Regions from separate parts of the Homo sapiens genome. Here region 2 is linked to region 1. The links come from fine-mapping of genetic effects on gene expression. Tissue or cell type: monocytes after LPS. Region 1 holds a variant in brackets; the other region holds the start of a gene. All regions are shown on one strand. Distances are between the middles of the regions.

What was found. PIP is the estimated chance that this variant, and not a neighbour inherited with it, causes the effect.
Region 2: it holds the start of GLIS3, and the variant in region 1 is fine-mapped to the expression of GLIS3 in monocytes after LPS (Fairfax 2014, PIP 0.95).

What each region holds. Positions count from the first base shown.
Region 1 is chr9:4,143,872-4,152,114 of GRCh38, forward strand. The region is part of intron 2 of GLIS3 (GLIS family zinc finger 3); the gene reads right to left. Among named protein-coding and RNA genes, the nearest start is that of GLIS3-AS2, 150 kb to the right of the region's middle. The variant G/C (reference allele first, on the strand shown) is at 4,846.
Region 2 is chr9:4,296,586-4,304,585 of GRCh38, forward strand. GLIS3 (GLIS family zinc finger 3) reads right to left here and starts at 3,483. Exons shown (of 11, transcript NM_001042413.2): 1 at 2,836-3,483. It overlaps GLIS3-AS2 (GLIS3 antisense RNA 2), which reads left to right and starts at 2,716. Exons shown (of 4, transcript NR_186824.1): 1 at 2,716-2,838. RefSeq lists an enhancer at 484-778.

The DNA of each region.
Region 1 (8,243 bases):
CTATCTATGGCGAAACCATCTAAATGTTTGAAAGAGATTTTCCACCATCTTCAGAATTCTAGGATCAAGCCAGTGAGAAAGAAAAGAGAATAGACGACGTCTCCCTTCCTGTTTAAACATAGTGAGCACCTTAGTATGGAAAGATTTTCCCATTATCTTCTTTCAAAAATGTGTCAGCATGGTTTGGGGGAGGGTGGGACGACAGGGCAAGTGGGAGAGCTGTTATTGGACCTCAGGGGAGAAGGCAAGGGAACAAAGATCGAGAAACCTTGCTCCATAAATGCTGTCCTGTCATCTGACACCACAGCGCAAGGAATGCTACTAACACCTCCGTCCAAAGGAGGAAAGAATAGAGTCCGAAAGAGATCTGAAAAGAAGGCGGATAATTCAGCTCAACCGACTTGTTTTTTGACACGTAGCCTTGAAAAGAACAATTTTACCTCAGAAACTTGGCAAATACAAAGTGATATTTTTTGATAGGTTATAACATGCATTTTACTAAATGCATGAAGAGAGGGCGAGGGAAAAAAAGGCCAGGTATCTGAAGACAGGAAAGTTGTCAGGTTTCTCGTTTCTGTGTCATTTTTGTTTAGTCGGTCAAATGAAAATTCAAAACCATATAATTAGATGGTTGTTTATACATGATTAAGCATGAGCTCATTGGACTCTACATGCCAAAAAGTCAGAGATGTGGTTAAGGGCAAGAAGGAACTATTAATAAAAGGAAATAAAGCTGTAATACATTTTTCACTTATGAATAAAAATAACTCAAAGGTCTCTAGATGGAAAAAGAGAAACAAAATCAACCATGAGTAGGGGCAAGAAACCAGATAATTTTATAAATGGTTAGAATTCAATAAAACATAAGCCACTGGTATGAAAAGGCTTTTTTTCCTCCTCCATGATTCTAATCCTATTTTTTGCTTCTCGTAAACATAACTCACAATGAGAACATAACAAAACTTACCTGTATTATATTTCTTTAGAACTGTTCTGGGAAATATTTAAGCAAGAACATGCTGTTTATTTACAAGAGTTACTTGTTCTTCATAACTGTCTTCACCAGTAATCCTCTCCGGAAAAACCAATAGCTGTCAGCTCCCTTGGAAAAGGCAGTGTCCTTTTGTTTTTAACAACTGCAGAATTTTCTTCCCATAGCGAAGTGAGCCCATTGAAAGCAAGGCTTAACTGACCATAACCTTCATAAAGGTAAGGCAGATGCTCCCAGATCCCCCACAGGATCTGTGATTTTAGACTTGGGCTCTGAAAACTGGTGAATCAACTGCTCATAGACCAAACACCACACTATGGATGAGGTCAGTGGGCAAGTCTTTGGGATGGCAGAGAAAATAAACTGATCCAGGATCAGCCTACTTACTCCTTGTTAGGTAAGGTTTTTAAGCCAATACTACAACGTCCCACTACTGGGAAAATACATCAATACAGGGTACCTCTGGAGAACACGCTGGTAAATGAAAAACTACACCCAAAGGTGGTTCAATTGTGTGTGTTATTTTCTATAAGCAAACATATCTTTAGGTTGCCAAGGCTAGTACCTTTTGCACACAACTGCTGTGATACATATAGTACAACCAATTGATTGGAACAACATGATCTAAAACCAAAAATGACCAAAGCCCACAGGATATCGCAACACACAGTTCTTAAGAATGAGGCTAAAATGAATCTAATAACATTCAAAAAGCCCATAATGCCTAAGAGGCATGAACACCGACTTTTACAGCCCGACTCTGAGAGCAGTCTCCAAGTCACATCAGTGCCCTCTGTCAGAGGGACCTAACATCTCAAACTTCCCTCTCTTTCCTCTCCCTTCCTCCCCTTCTCTTCCTGCCAGCTTCCCTCCTCCCTTTGTTCCCCCTCCCTCCCTCACTTTCTCCCTTTCTCTCCCTCTCTCTCCTTTAGTATCAGCCAGTTCTGACTCCCAGAGAGAGTAATCTTCTCTGGGAAGTGCATACCCGCTCAGTAGAATTTAAACAATATACTTCATTTAAGCCTGTATGATAAACTACAAAATATAGAAATTCCTAAAAAGGTCATTTCCAAGAAACTAACATGACAAAAAAGTACAAATCTGAAAAGGCATGGACAATTGAGACAAAGCACAACATTCATAACTAATTTGGCAATTTTAACCTATAAAACCTATATATTATCTACATGTCTTACATGAGATAGGTACTTTGTTCTAAAGATACTTTTTAATTATTGACCTGATTTTGTCAAATTCAGTTCTTAACATATTCATTTAGTGCAAGAAGCTACCCAAAGCTGGGAGGAAAGTGCACTTTCATGAAACAAAGTCTTTATGCACCAGAACTTTATGGATTTGTGTCTTTAATGTTGAAGGAAGGGGGGACACCTTACTAACTTAATAAATATCGATTATTTGAAACCGTTGAATATCTACTATAGTTCTAGATAAGAAATTTGATAATTTATTCCTAAACAATGTGTGGCATGTAACTCAAAACTATTTTTCATCAATAATTAGTATTAATAATTAACAAGGGTAAACAACAAAAATACCTTTTGGAAATATTTCAACTTGGCCCTTTCCTCATTCCACAGGCTGCCTATTGCCAGTCTTTACCCTCAATTTAGGGTTAATGACTAAACTGTCCTCATCTCTGACATGCAACACTACTCAGCAGCAATCTTCCCAAGTATGTGCTCACAAATACATAAGATTGAAAAGAATAAAAGTCTTATCAAAGTCACTGGAATCTGGCGAACTGATTTTTAAATTAGCAACTGCAGTTACGATCCACTCAGCAGTGAATTAGATTTTTCAGCAGTAGGGACAGAACCCTGAATAAACTTCATCTCAAACGCCTATTCTCCATCCTAAATATGCAATTTATGTCTTTAATGCAAGAATTAGCCTACTAATAAAAATTAAACAGTTCTCTAGATAAACACAGCAAAGAGGAAGGATGCTACAAGAGCTATTCATTTAAAACAGGCCAGAACCAATGTACTGGATTTTATTTGACACTCATTCTGAAGAGTATTACGTTCGACTTTTAAAAACTATCTTGCTATTATTTCTCAATTTGATTGTCCCAAAGCATCTTTAGAGTCAAATGCACTAGATCTTATACCAAATTAAAGGCATTTCACCGTATGCCTCTAATTTTCTAGCCACCCTGACCTAGCACCTGACATTTAGAAATTTAAGCCCACTGCAATTAATCTCCTCTGGCCATTCATTTCTTCCCCAAATTGAACATTATGCAGGCAATATCCTAAGAAGTTCTGAAAGTTCAACGTCATACTATATTTTAATTTCTTACAGCAAATACAAATTCTAAAATTCCTAGTCCTCTTCCTTCACGTACCTCCATTCTATTATTGGAATTTCAATAATGGAATTTCAATTTGGAATTTCTTAACAAATTTCTTACCATTATTCTTCCTGAAAAATGATCAAAATCATCAGCAAAAGCATCTCATGCTTAAATTATTCATGTTCTCAGGCTGTTTGGCCACTGACATTTTAAAGTGTTAGAAGTAAGAAGTCCTTGCACTGCGGGGCTTCCATATGCAGTGTCTGCTTGTGTACCTGTGTGGGTATAGATTGTTTATATCTTGCCCTTGGCTGGGGGCCTCAGACAGCTGTGCAGAGTACTTGGCATACATTTCCAGGGCTACTTGCTCTTTGGTTTTATAAAATGCAGGCAGCAGGAACATTCAGGAACTGCCAGGACATTCAGCAAAGGCTGGAGTGCAGAGAGGAAAGCATCTGACAAATGCAGAGTAAGAAACAATGACTCCCTTCAAGGGGAACTGCTGGTGAAGTCAGCCAGCGCTGGCCAGCGCGAACAATACTTGGGCAGGTCATTAACTTGCCTGGGTCAGAGCAGGTGGGTGAACTCACCCACCCACCTTTCTGGAAGCAAAGTTTCACTTGCTGAGTTCATACCAAAAAAAAAAAAAAAATTATAACATTCTAATGGCTAAACTAGGGATGTGTCTGAAAATAGCTAACTCTGCAAACCCTGCAGAAGACATCCAGGGAATTCACAAAGGTAAGTCAACTTACTGTCGGCTGTTTCATTTTGCACACATCTCTATAATAGCTACGTATGTATTATGTTGAAAATAAGCAAACACATTAGCAAACCAGGATTTTTTGAAGTGAGGTGGTTACCACTGTATTATGTTTCTCCCTCTCCTTTTTTTTCTTTTGCATAGGAAAGAGTAAGTTACTGGTTAACTACACAAAGGAGTTAACATTTAACTTGAACACCAGGAATGCTTGAGCTCTTAATCCCTCCCCCCTTTTTCTTATTATAGCAAAAATAGCTTCAGGAAAACTCTTACTAATTATTGCTGATTCTAGATGAGATCTGGCTACATCGGTTTCCTTGCTACACTCACAGGAGTTTGATTTCAGCCTGAATTCACCACTATGGTTCTTTCAGACATACTCCACTCCAGGCAGCCTGAAATCCCTGGTCACCACATCCCCACGTCCCCATACTCTCCATATTTCCATCCTCAAAGATCAGCTCAAATGCTACCTCCTCCTTGAAAGAAACCTTCCATATTCCTTCCTCCAATGCCAGGTTTACAGTGCTCTATTCCTCCTCTAAACTCCCACATAGTTATTCATTTGTCTTTTGTGCTGTGGATCAATTCTACCTCATGTATCTATATCTCACCTTTCCCCCTAAACTGGCAGGCCCATGAGGACAGGGACTGTACCTAATCCACCTGGACCCCTACCCATCACCCCAGAATATTAGGCCTCAGCTTCCTAATGCCTATGAACAGGTAATGCCCACACCATACCTGTAGCAAGTTTTAGTAAAGAACTTCTTT[G/C]CACAGGTAGGTGGAGAGAGGGCTACAAGGAGGGTGGGATTGTATAATTTAAAATAAGGGGAAAAATAAAAATAAAATAAACAGAGAAATTGCTGAGAAGCCTGGAGTGGGGGTAACGTGGCCAGAGCTGCCACTTTGTTGTCCTGGCCATTCCTAACCCATTCTCCTCTCTCCTCCACAGGCTGACTCCACACCTCACTGCACACAAAGCTCGTCCCTATCAACAGAACCTTTTCCAAACTGTTTGACTTCTCACCTTTCCCATGAAGCCCTCCGTGGAAACAAGATTATAACAAACCTCTGTCTCCTCTCCAAATACTCCAAAGGAGGTGCAGAGTTTACCTAGCTATCAACATGGTGATCATGCTTCCTCACCAAGAACTTGTACTATTACAGCTGCTACTACTACTGCTACTAAGAATAATAATGATAGTGATTCATCTATACATTAAAAATGAAGTGAAAGTTAAAGTAAGCTTAATGGAAGGCTTACTTGGTGCCAGAGGAGGATGCCTAGCTCTATTCCCAGATTAACTCATTTAGCTCCCACAACAACCTTGATTATTACCATCCCATTTCACAGGGGAGGAAAACTAAGGCTTGAAGACCATATTAACCTGCTAAGAGTGAGTATTCAAACCCCAGCTAGCCCAACTCAAAAAACACACACAGATGGCTATGAGTTCATTCATATTCCCTTAACCATCACCTCCCACATAACTGGACAAATACTCCTAGATGGAGAGAACACAGGACAATTGTCATTCTTCTCCCAAAGCTGGAACTCACACTCACGCGGAGCCTCCAACCTCTTGGTTTCCATATATAAGCAATAGTCAGGCATGACACCTTAATTTATTCTGTGTAGGTACCATAAATGGTGTCAGGCATGCAAGTACAAATAGATGACACTAGTCTAACCTTTAAAGCAGTGGTTAAGTGTCTATTACATAACCCCTTTTACTTTCAGGAATTTTTGATGCATAACATGAAATTCATTTGTTATCTCACTCATTCAGGAGTTAAAAACTGCATGGTAGGAGCAGGTGAAACAGAGATCAAGAGAATCACAGCACAAAATAATGTCTGGTAAAATAAGGTAGGATAAAAAAGCTACTGAGACACAGAGAAGGAGATGACGATGATGATAATGATGGTGATATTTAGAAACAAGATATGAAGTATCTTATCTGCACTTGCATATATCTTACTACAAAAGGGATTTACTAACTTTTTATTCACGAAGAGTCTTGAATGCGCACAGTTCATACGGATATATGTTAGGAATATAAGAACATAATGCACGTGCGGGTGCACGCATGCACACATAAACACACACACACAGATGAGCACAAAGATAATTTCACAGTGAATCTGGTACAATAAAAGGTAAAGAAGAGCTTCCCCAGAGAAGCAACCTCCCATACAGACCCAAAGCTTTTATAGGGCCCCTTTCTACTAGAAACCAACCTACCTTAAAAACAACAAAAATAAAGCTGAAAGGGGGTCTTTTCTAAAATTCTGCCTCAGTAGCCCAAACTTTGATCTTACACAACTGGACTGACCTAAAAGCAGAGTCCAACCAGCCACTGACTGTCCTCTGCTTTTACTAACCAATAAAAATATTCACATAAGGAGGAGGAAAACGTAAATTTGTAGGTAGATGGGGCCAGCCATATGGAGGCAAGAGGAATCTATGCCAGGGCAAAGTCGCAGGCCAGGAGGCCAAGTTCAGTCTGTGGCAAGCTCAGCCAAATCACCACATTCAGCCTGGTAAGATCACATACCATCTAGCACACAGCCTGGCACAAACCAAATGCTCAGAAAATATCGATTCCTCTTCCCATCTGCAAATCACATCAGAAAACCTTTACTCTCTCATATCTTAAAAGACTATCTTTAAACCAGAATAGATGATGAAACAATTTCAAGGGTTTCCCTCATAAGAAAAAGATGTATCTCTGCCCCCACCATGCTTTGAATTCATAGATTTAGATGCCAAGAAGGAAGATTAGAAATCATGTGTCCAACCTCCTTATTTTATAAATTGTAAAATTCAAGTCCAGAGATGTAAAGTGACTTTCACCCGGTCACACAGCTAGTTAATGGCAGCATCAGGACAAAAATCCAAGTACTTGGGCACCCAACTAAACCCACTTTCTAATGTATCCTACTACTTTTTTGGGGCTGTCAGTTATAAATGGTGCTTAATGATGCAAATACCTCTGAGGCAGTTAAAAATGTCTTTTGCCTTCAAAATAGAGTGAAGATGGCAGATGATCGACTCCTACACAATGAGCATTGGGTTGGGGACAGGAGCGTCCATGAAGAGATGAAGAGCTGAAGGAAAAAAAGGGGTAAGCACAGAGGAGGAGATCAGGATGAAAAGCGACATAGAGATGCCTACTTAACAACTGTGCCTAGAGATCGACTCTGTTTCAGTCCACAGGTTGAATCTGAAAACGCCACCAGAGACTTCTCTCTTCCAAGTGTCTTTGAGCCTAGAAGATACAAAAGCCTGCATTCTCCCAGATCAGACAAAATGTATGACTCTTCAGGAGAAAAAAGAAATCAGATTGTTACATTTTTAAAAAGAGGTTCAGTTTGAGTTTGCCTCTATCTCCTCAAACTATATGTTTTAGCAGAAACACAGCTAAACCACAGGTTTTATTAGAACTAGTGCCTGCTTATTCATCCACCAAATGTAAATCTGCCACTGAACCAACATTCAGACTGCTCAGGGAGAGCAAGCACCTTGCTTAGAAAGGGGGAAAGTCTAATTTAAGCATATGGAACTTGACAGCATAATTTTTTTAAAGATTCTCTTCTCAAAGAAAGTTTACAAGCAGTAAGTGGGGCTCTAAGGCTATTATTTCTTGGCAAAATAACTGCAGAACAATTGTCCAGTTCACAGTTTTGCACTGAGGGGATTTCTTTGGATTGTGGCCTTTCTTCATCTTTGTTCTAAGGAAAAAATCTGCCTTCAGGAGTCCTAAACAATGAAAGCGCTCTTCATTATGTCTATGAGTTTGGATAGAGTCCTGTGGCACAGAGACCATGCCTGGTAATGAAGCATAATAATCATCTGTTCCTAGTTAAACATACTCATACCTTCCACAGCAGGAGAGAACCTTTGGAAGGCGACAGAATGAAGGGCATTTGAGGTTGAGACCCTCAGTCCTCCTTGGGCTCAACTCTTACCCAAAGGACTCTCATAAAAAAGAATGAGAAGACATAAAAACATCACGTAAAATTCAATGTTATTCAACAAATATTTATGGGATCTCCAGTTTGCACAGGTCTTGTATGAAAAAACCAGAACCTCAAACCCTCCCAGTCTCATATCTCACCTAGACAACAAACAAGTAACACAATATTTTTCTACGGCCATTCAAACC
Region 2 (8,000 bases), 150 kb after region 1:
AACTTCAGTGGAATCAGGGGATCAACGATGCTGTCCCCAAACTGGCCTAAGGTGAACCAAGGGGAGAAGTTAACAGCAGCACTTAAATTGATCTACTCATACTCAAGGATTACTGAGTCTTCTGGGCAAGAAAAGAAAGCAATTACAAACTACCAATAAGGACAGGTGTTTTGAAAATAGCGAAAAAAAAATGTCCCCTACACTTCCTTTCAAAGGTAGCCTCAGAGCTAGTCTGGCTGCGCAGATGACCAGTGAAAATAAATGAAAACTGCAGTACGGTTATAGATGATCCTTACACCTCAGCTTGTTCTCAATTGCAAAAAAAAAAAAAAAAAAAAAAAATGCATATAATCTAACACTCTCCTGTCTAAATTGCTTCAAACTTTCTCAGAACGACCTTCATCGTGGCGGATTCTTTTTCTGCAAACCTTTACAGGTTGCACCTGCTTCACACAGAACCAGCGGAAACAAACTAGGAGGAGATAAAAGAGAAGAAGTAGGAAGGTTTAAACCAACACAAGTCGATTTTGTACCCAAAAAAAAAAAAAAGTTTAGTCTAAAAAGGGAGGTCCAGTGAGGAACAAGACAGAGGGTGAAACAGAAGTCTGGCTTACTCCCAAGGCAGAAATCATGACTCATCAAAGCTTTCAGAGGGGACAGAACCAGACTTTGCATTTGTCTTGAGGTCATCTTCGAGCCAAGAAATGCTCTCTTAACCGGGACCTGAGAACTTTAAGGGTCTGCGACAACTGGCTGTGAGGCCTTGGGCAAAACCTCTAACGTCTCTGGGGCTCGGTTTCCTCATCAGGTGAAGCCAGGGTCCACTCTAGCTTTAATAGTCTCTCCTCGAGATTCCCGGCCCCATACTAAAGGGACCTGGTCCACTGGGGGGAGCTGCAGAACTTCCCTCTTCTCACAAACTCCAGGGCCCTGGGGCCCCAACTCTCGGGAGATGCTGAAGTCTTGGAGGAAGTTGGTTCTGCCGGCTCGGGGAGAGGGTGCAAGAGCAACCCTCTTTGTGAAACGGGGCCGCGACTCCACGAGTCCTGTCTCTACGGACCCTACTCCCTGTGATTCCGGAAGCACCTCCCTACCCCTTCCCCAGGTTTACATGCTCCAGAGATGAGGGCCAAGCGGATACCGGGGCAAACTAGCGTGGGGCTCAAGGAGGCACACAGAGCAGTGGTCTCAGTCCTCGAGACCACTCCTGCCAAGAGGAGGGCTGGAGAAGTCGGGAGAGGTGCCGGGAGCGGGGGAGAGGCGCGTAGGACAAGGCAGGAGGAGGGCGGCCCTTATCGGTTCCCTATAGGACTGGCTTCGCTGCCGGGGTCGGAGATTCCTCGGCGCGGAGCTAGGGGCGGGTCCGGAGGCGGAGGCGACAGCGCCCGGCGGGGTACGCGCGGCTGCGACCCCGTCACTCCCCCGCCGCCTCCGCCCCTAACCCTCGGCCCCGTGCGCGAGCGAGCGAGGGAGCGAACGCAGCGCAACAAAACAAACTAGTGCCGGCTTCCTGTTGTGCAACTCGCTCCTGAGTGAGTCGGGGGCCGAAAGGGTGCTGCGGCTGGGAAGCCCGGGCGCCGGGGACCTGCGCGCGCTGCCCGGCCTGGCCGGAGCCTGTAGCCCGGGGGCGCCACGGCCGGGCTCGCAGTCCCCCCACGCCGGCCCCCCGGTCCCCGCCGAGCCAGTGTCCTCACCCTGTGGTTTCCTTTCGCTTCTCGCCTCCCAAACACCTCCAGCAAGTCGGAGGGCGCGAACGCGGAGCCAGAAACCCTTCCCCAAAGTTTCTCCCGCCAGGTACCTAATTGAATCATCCATAGGATGACAAATCAGCCAGGGCCAAGATTTCCAGACACTTGAGTGACTTCCCGGTCCCCGAGGTGACTTGTCAGCTCCAGTGAGTAACTTGGAACTGTCGCTCGGGGCAAGGTGTGTGTCTAGGAGAGAGCCGGCGGCTCACTCACGCTTTCCAGAGAGCGACCCGGGCCGACTTCAAAATACACACAGGGTCATTTATAGGGACTGGAGCCGCGCGCAGGACAACGTCTCCGAGACTGAGACATTTTCCAAACAGTGCTGACATTTTGTCGGGCCCCATAAAAAATGTAAACGCGAGGTGACGAACCCGGCGGGGAGGGTTCGTGTCTGGCTGTGTCTGCGTCCTGGCGGCGTGGGAGGTTATAGTTCCAGACCTGGCGGCTGCGGATCGCCGGGCCGGTACCCGCGAGGAGTGTAGGTACCCTCAGCCCGACCACCTCCCGCAATCATGGGGACACCGGCTTGGATGAGACACAGGCGTGGAAAACAGCCTTCGTGAAACTCCACAAACACGTGGAACTTGAAAAGACAACTACAGCCCCGCGTGTGCGCGAGAGACCTCACGTCACCCCATCAGTTCCCACTTCGCCAAAGTTTCCCTTCAGTGGGGACTCCAGAGTGGTGCGCCCCATGCCCGTGCGTCCTGTAACGTGCCCTGATTGTGTACCCCTCTGCCCGCTCTACTTGAAATGAAAACACAAAAACTGTTCCGAATTAGCGCAACTTTAAAGCCCCGTTATCTGTCTTCTACACTGGGCGCTCTTAGGCCACTGACAGAAACATGGTTTGAACCCTAATTGTTGCTATCAGTCTCAGTCAGCGCAGGTCTCTCAGTGACCTGTGACGCCGGGAGTTGAGGTGCGCGTATCCTTAAACCCGCGCGAACGCCACCGGCTCAGCGTAGAAAACTATTTGTAATCCCTAGTTTGCGTCTCTGAGCTTTAACTCCCCCACACTCTCAAGCGCCCGGTTTCTCCTCGTCTCTCGCCTGCGAGCAAAGTTCCTATGGCATCCACTTACCAGGTAACCGGGATTTCCACAACAAAGCCCGGCGTGCGGGTCCCTTCCCCCGGCCGGCCAGCGCGAGTGACAGCGGGCGGCCGGCGCTGGCGAGGAGTAACTTGGGGCTCCAGCCCTTCAGAGCGCTCCGCGGGCTGTGCCTCCTTCGGAAATGAAAACCCCCATCCAAACGGGGGGACGGAGCGCGGAAACCCGGCCCAAGTGCCGTGTGTGCGCGCGCGTCTGCGAGGGCAGCGGCGGCAGGGGGAGGAGGAGGCAGAGGCGGGGTGGCTGGACCCTCGGCATCAGCTCATTCTCCCCTGCTACACACATACACACACAAATAATGTTTCTAAAAAGTTCAGTTGCGACTTTGTGCCTCGCCTGTCCTGTTCATCCTCGTCCTGGGCCGGGGAATGCTTCTGGGGGCCGACCCCGGGATGCTGGCTAATTGCTGCCGGCGGGTTCCGTCGCCGGTGTGACCCTGGACGGCGCGGACGGCGTACAGGGGGTCCCGGGAGGGGCAGTGGCCGCGGCACTCGCCGCCGGTGCCCGTGCGCGCCGCGCTCTGGGCTGCCCGGGCGGCGCAGTGTGGACGCGGCTGCAGGGAGAGGGGAAGGGGGAAGAGGGAGGGAGGAAGGCAGCCGGGCGAGGAGTGTGGATGTGTGTGCGGCCGCGAGGGCCGGCCTGTAGCCAGCTGCTTCCTGAGTGTGAGCGCCGGAGGGGGAGGGGGAAGAGTGGGGGCGGGCTCGCGGGTCACTAGGCTGGCCAATTCGAAGGCCGAGCTTGTGTCTCCCTCTTGACGCATTCACACACACACACACACACACACACACACACACACACACTCCCCGTGCGCCAGAAGTCGAGGAACTCCAGAACAGGGTAACAGCAGGGAGACACTTCGCCTTCTTCCTGGCCTTATTTGTTAAACTGACTTATTTTAACATGAAAAAGTGTTAGTGTTTAGACAGGATTTGATGTCAGGTCATAAAAAAATAAACAAACAACCAAAAAAATCCGGTAGTAATACGGAGAGAATAACACAGTGAAAAATGGCAAAAGGGTTGCTTTGAAATATCGGATCGGATGCACATGACAGCTTCGAAACTGGATAGGTGAAGCACTAAGGAAGGCTTTGGCATCCTTTCCAAGTATAGGCAGGGAAGAGAGGAAGGTGATGGAAGTGTTAGAAGGGTATAAAATTCTGAACACAGGCTGTTAAGAATGGAGGTATATTCCCTGCGTATGTTACGTCTATAAAGTGGCACTTTATCCTTATGAATTCAACATCCTCAGCCTCATACCCCACCTAAGCTCTGACTCGCCACCGCTTCTGCTTGTGTTGACCAGAGCCCTCAAAAGGTTGTTACAAGAAAGTCTGCTCCTAGTAGTTCATCACATGTATTGCCACAGATGCAAGGACTTCCATCTTGGGAATCTAGGTATGTAATGCACACAATATCCTCCAGGTAGGCCTTTCTGCAGTTGACAGTATTATTCACCATCATGAATGAAATGAGTGAGGATGCCACCAGACACTTAGAATTTCACAAGTCCTTATATTCTATTCTACTGTTACCACTCCAATATAAATTAGCAATCAGGTAGTAGATGCTTTGATCAAGACAGAAGTCCTCAAGGACACAAATGACTTACCCCAGAAAGCCAAAACTAAAAGACTATTGGCAGTTTTCATTTATCTAATTTCAGTGGGAATACTACTAGGCTTGGTCTGTATCCATGATATTAACATAACCAAAAGAAGCCTGGTTTCCACAGTACTTTTTCTTTTCTTTTCCTTCACCTTGGGACACAAACTCATCAGAATATTTGTCAGCAGAAGTAGGGGATGAAAAATAGTAAGAGGTCAGGATATGTCATTCTGTCAGTTTTCCAGTTTCTCTCTGTTCATCTCTTTTAAATACAAGTATTCAAGCCCAAGATGGCAATAGATGGGCTCAACCACACGTAAGAAAAGAAAATACTCATAAAATGAAGCATGCAGCAACATCACAAAAACAAAGAAACCAAGTGGTGGAAATTGCCATGACTATTCCATTGTGGCTAGTTATTGCAACATGCCTGACATTCACATAAAAACTCTTCCTCATTAACTCCAGCCTTAAGGAACAGAGCAAGATGGCAACACTAACCCTTCAATGCATCATGGGAACTTCTGTTCATCAGATTCTTGTGCTGTACAACTGCTTCCCAGGAGCAAGACAAGCCTGGGTGGAGACTGCAAAAAACCTTTCCAATGTCCCTCAAATATCATTTTAAATACAATGGTTTTGATGCATAGAATGGTATCCTAGGGGCTTGCAGAAGCTTCTAAAACTTCCCAAATGATGGGAACAGCTTAGCTGGAAGAGAAAAAAATATAGTGCTACACCCAACTTTAATCAATAGCTCATGGAAAAAAACACTGGGAAAGTTAGGAGTCATCAACCTGGAGATCCCCAAAATCTCTTCATTTATAAGAGCCCAAGAGTGGGAATGTCATTTTATTTAGGTGTGATTTTCATGAACCTCTAACATTCCTAAAATATTTACCACTGAAGAGGTATAGTGCTTTGGTTGAATTTTTTTCTTTTTTTTTTTTTCTGGCCAAGAATGTAGATCTGCAATGTTCTTATATTCCATGGGTTATAGTAAAAATGCAGTTGTTCTTGTACCAGTACAACCCTGGAATGACTCAGAATGAGATCTGTACCTCTTCTGGGCTGAATTGGTCAGCAGGGGTGAGGGAGGGTGGTAATGAGAGACAGTGAGAAAGGAAATCATGTAGTTCCAAAATGATACTCTCCCTTACCCATGAGCTCTCCATCGTGCTTAGGAATCATACTCTGGCAGCCCTTCAGCCAGATAGGTGGGAACTGCAGCCCAGTCAGTATCTTCCCTCTCTAGAGACCAGTGTTGTATGTGCCTCAACCGCTGACTCAGGGCAGCTGACTCAGCAGACAGGCCCCTGCTGCCAGCTCCAGTCCAGTTCTCATTCATCAGAGAAATATTCAGTGAGTACACACTCTGTCCAAGTATTGGGACTAAAGGAATTAACACTTGTAGGCATTGTATATGGGAGGATATTACAGAAAACTTTTTGCCCAGTGTCTTAGTTGTAGCAAACCCTCAAGAAATGGGGACTCTTTGCATATATTACCTCATCTAATTCTCAAATCAAATGTATGATGTGGCTATGAATAATCTCCTACTTAGAAGCAAAGAAGTTGAAGCTCAGTAAACAGTTAAAGAGAGTCAGAGACAGAGCCAAGTATGCCAGTTTAGAAGCCCCAAGTTCAATCAACATTACTGTACTACAGAATAATTGTGCATGCTCTTTGAATGTGTATAAAACATATTGCAGGTGTATAAAGTGCAAAGCATCTTGTGGTCAGTGTTAGATGAGCACAATGAAGTTTGTAGGGAGTGTGGAGGAGGCAGGAATAATTTCCTGCAATGTGACATGGAGTAGCTTGGCTGTTTGAGCTGGACTTCAAAGAATGAGTAGAGAAGTGATAAGCAAAGGAGACCATTTCAAGTATAGGAATCAGCATCAAAAGGGGCACAGAAGGCATAAGTCCTGCATAGCAAGCAGCTCACTCAAAGCTAGAGTACAAAATAGGAACATCCACTGTCTCACAGCAATGAAACTCTCCCGAAGGAACATCCTGACAGCAAAACTTCAGAACTGCTATTTGAGTCACCCTGAGTGCTCTGACAGTAAACCACTTACAAACTTGCAAAGAACTATGATCAGATTCCTCCTCCCACAAAGTGTCCGTGAAAAGAAACAAATTTGAACCCCAAAATACAGATAAGTTGAGCTAATAGCACCAGTGATAGTATGCCTAGCTATTAAAACACAGACACACACACACACACACACACGAGCTGGCAACAGTCCAGTTACGTAGAAATGCAGTGGAAAAAGTTAGTGTTTGCCAACTTTAAGGGGGGAACTAAATGTGTAAAATGGAAAATTTCCATTTTACTTTCCTGAGTAGTACAAATAGTGGAATGCAGCAAATTTCACATTATGTTATCAGTGTGTGATATACTAAGAAAACTTAAGCTGATTTTTCTACTAATTTGTCACAAGTATGTTCAGCCCAAACTCTTCGGCTCACATACATGTCAGTGATGTAATTTTTTAAAAAATTCTTATTTACACATATCGCATTCACAACATCATACCTCTTTTCCTTTCTAAAGTCAAAACTGTAAATCAGAGTCTAAAATGTGTCAGACCAAATGCAACTGACCAAAATTTCAAATATTTCACTCCATACAATATCTCTCAATCTTGTCTAATTGGTGAAATGTTTCTTCCTTTTTTATACAAACCAAGCTGAGATGTATCTAAAATTCAGAGAAAGGTTGATGATGTATTCCTTGACATATTACTTAGGTATATCTACAAAGAGCTTACCATAACAAACATAAATTCATAGATAAATACAATATTCCGCAGGCAGCCAGTTATTCTTTCACCATTTAACATCTATACTGGCCAACTATATGTGATGTTGTAAAATTAATTATCTAATCACAATGCCATCTTATCTATAACTACCTTCTATAAATGCCTCTTAATGACCATAACTTACTTTTCTTCATATGCCTTTCATGGCCTAGCAATAGTACTGGGCACTAGTAAGTAACTAATGCTAATCTGATAAATGGATTAATTAATGAGAGAATGAAAGAATGGTTTCTTCACCTTCAGAGATGATAAATGACACAACTCATTGTTATGTATGTGTATAATCATTTCAGTGTTCCAAAAGAGACTAACAGATGCTCTTTGAATGTGTGCAAACCACACTGCAAGTATACAAAGTACAAGGCGTCTTGTTATCAATGTCAGATGAGCACAGTTAGTGTGTAGGGAGTGTGAAGGAGGCAGGAATAATTTCCTACAATGTGATATGAAGTAGCTTTCTGTACCCCTAGGCTTTTTATTATAAACTGAAGATTTAAATATTGCTTCCTATTTCTTGAGGAAGAAAATTCAAAGACTTTATGCAATGCTTAGAATAAGGAGGAGAGCCTGTCTGCGCCCTGCTCCAGTGACCCTCTCCTGTCTGACACCCACTACTAAACCAGGTCAGTTGCATCATACCCTGAATTCTAGCCTCAAAATAAAAATATATACTAAATAATGGGGAGAAAAGGGAAGAAAA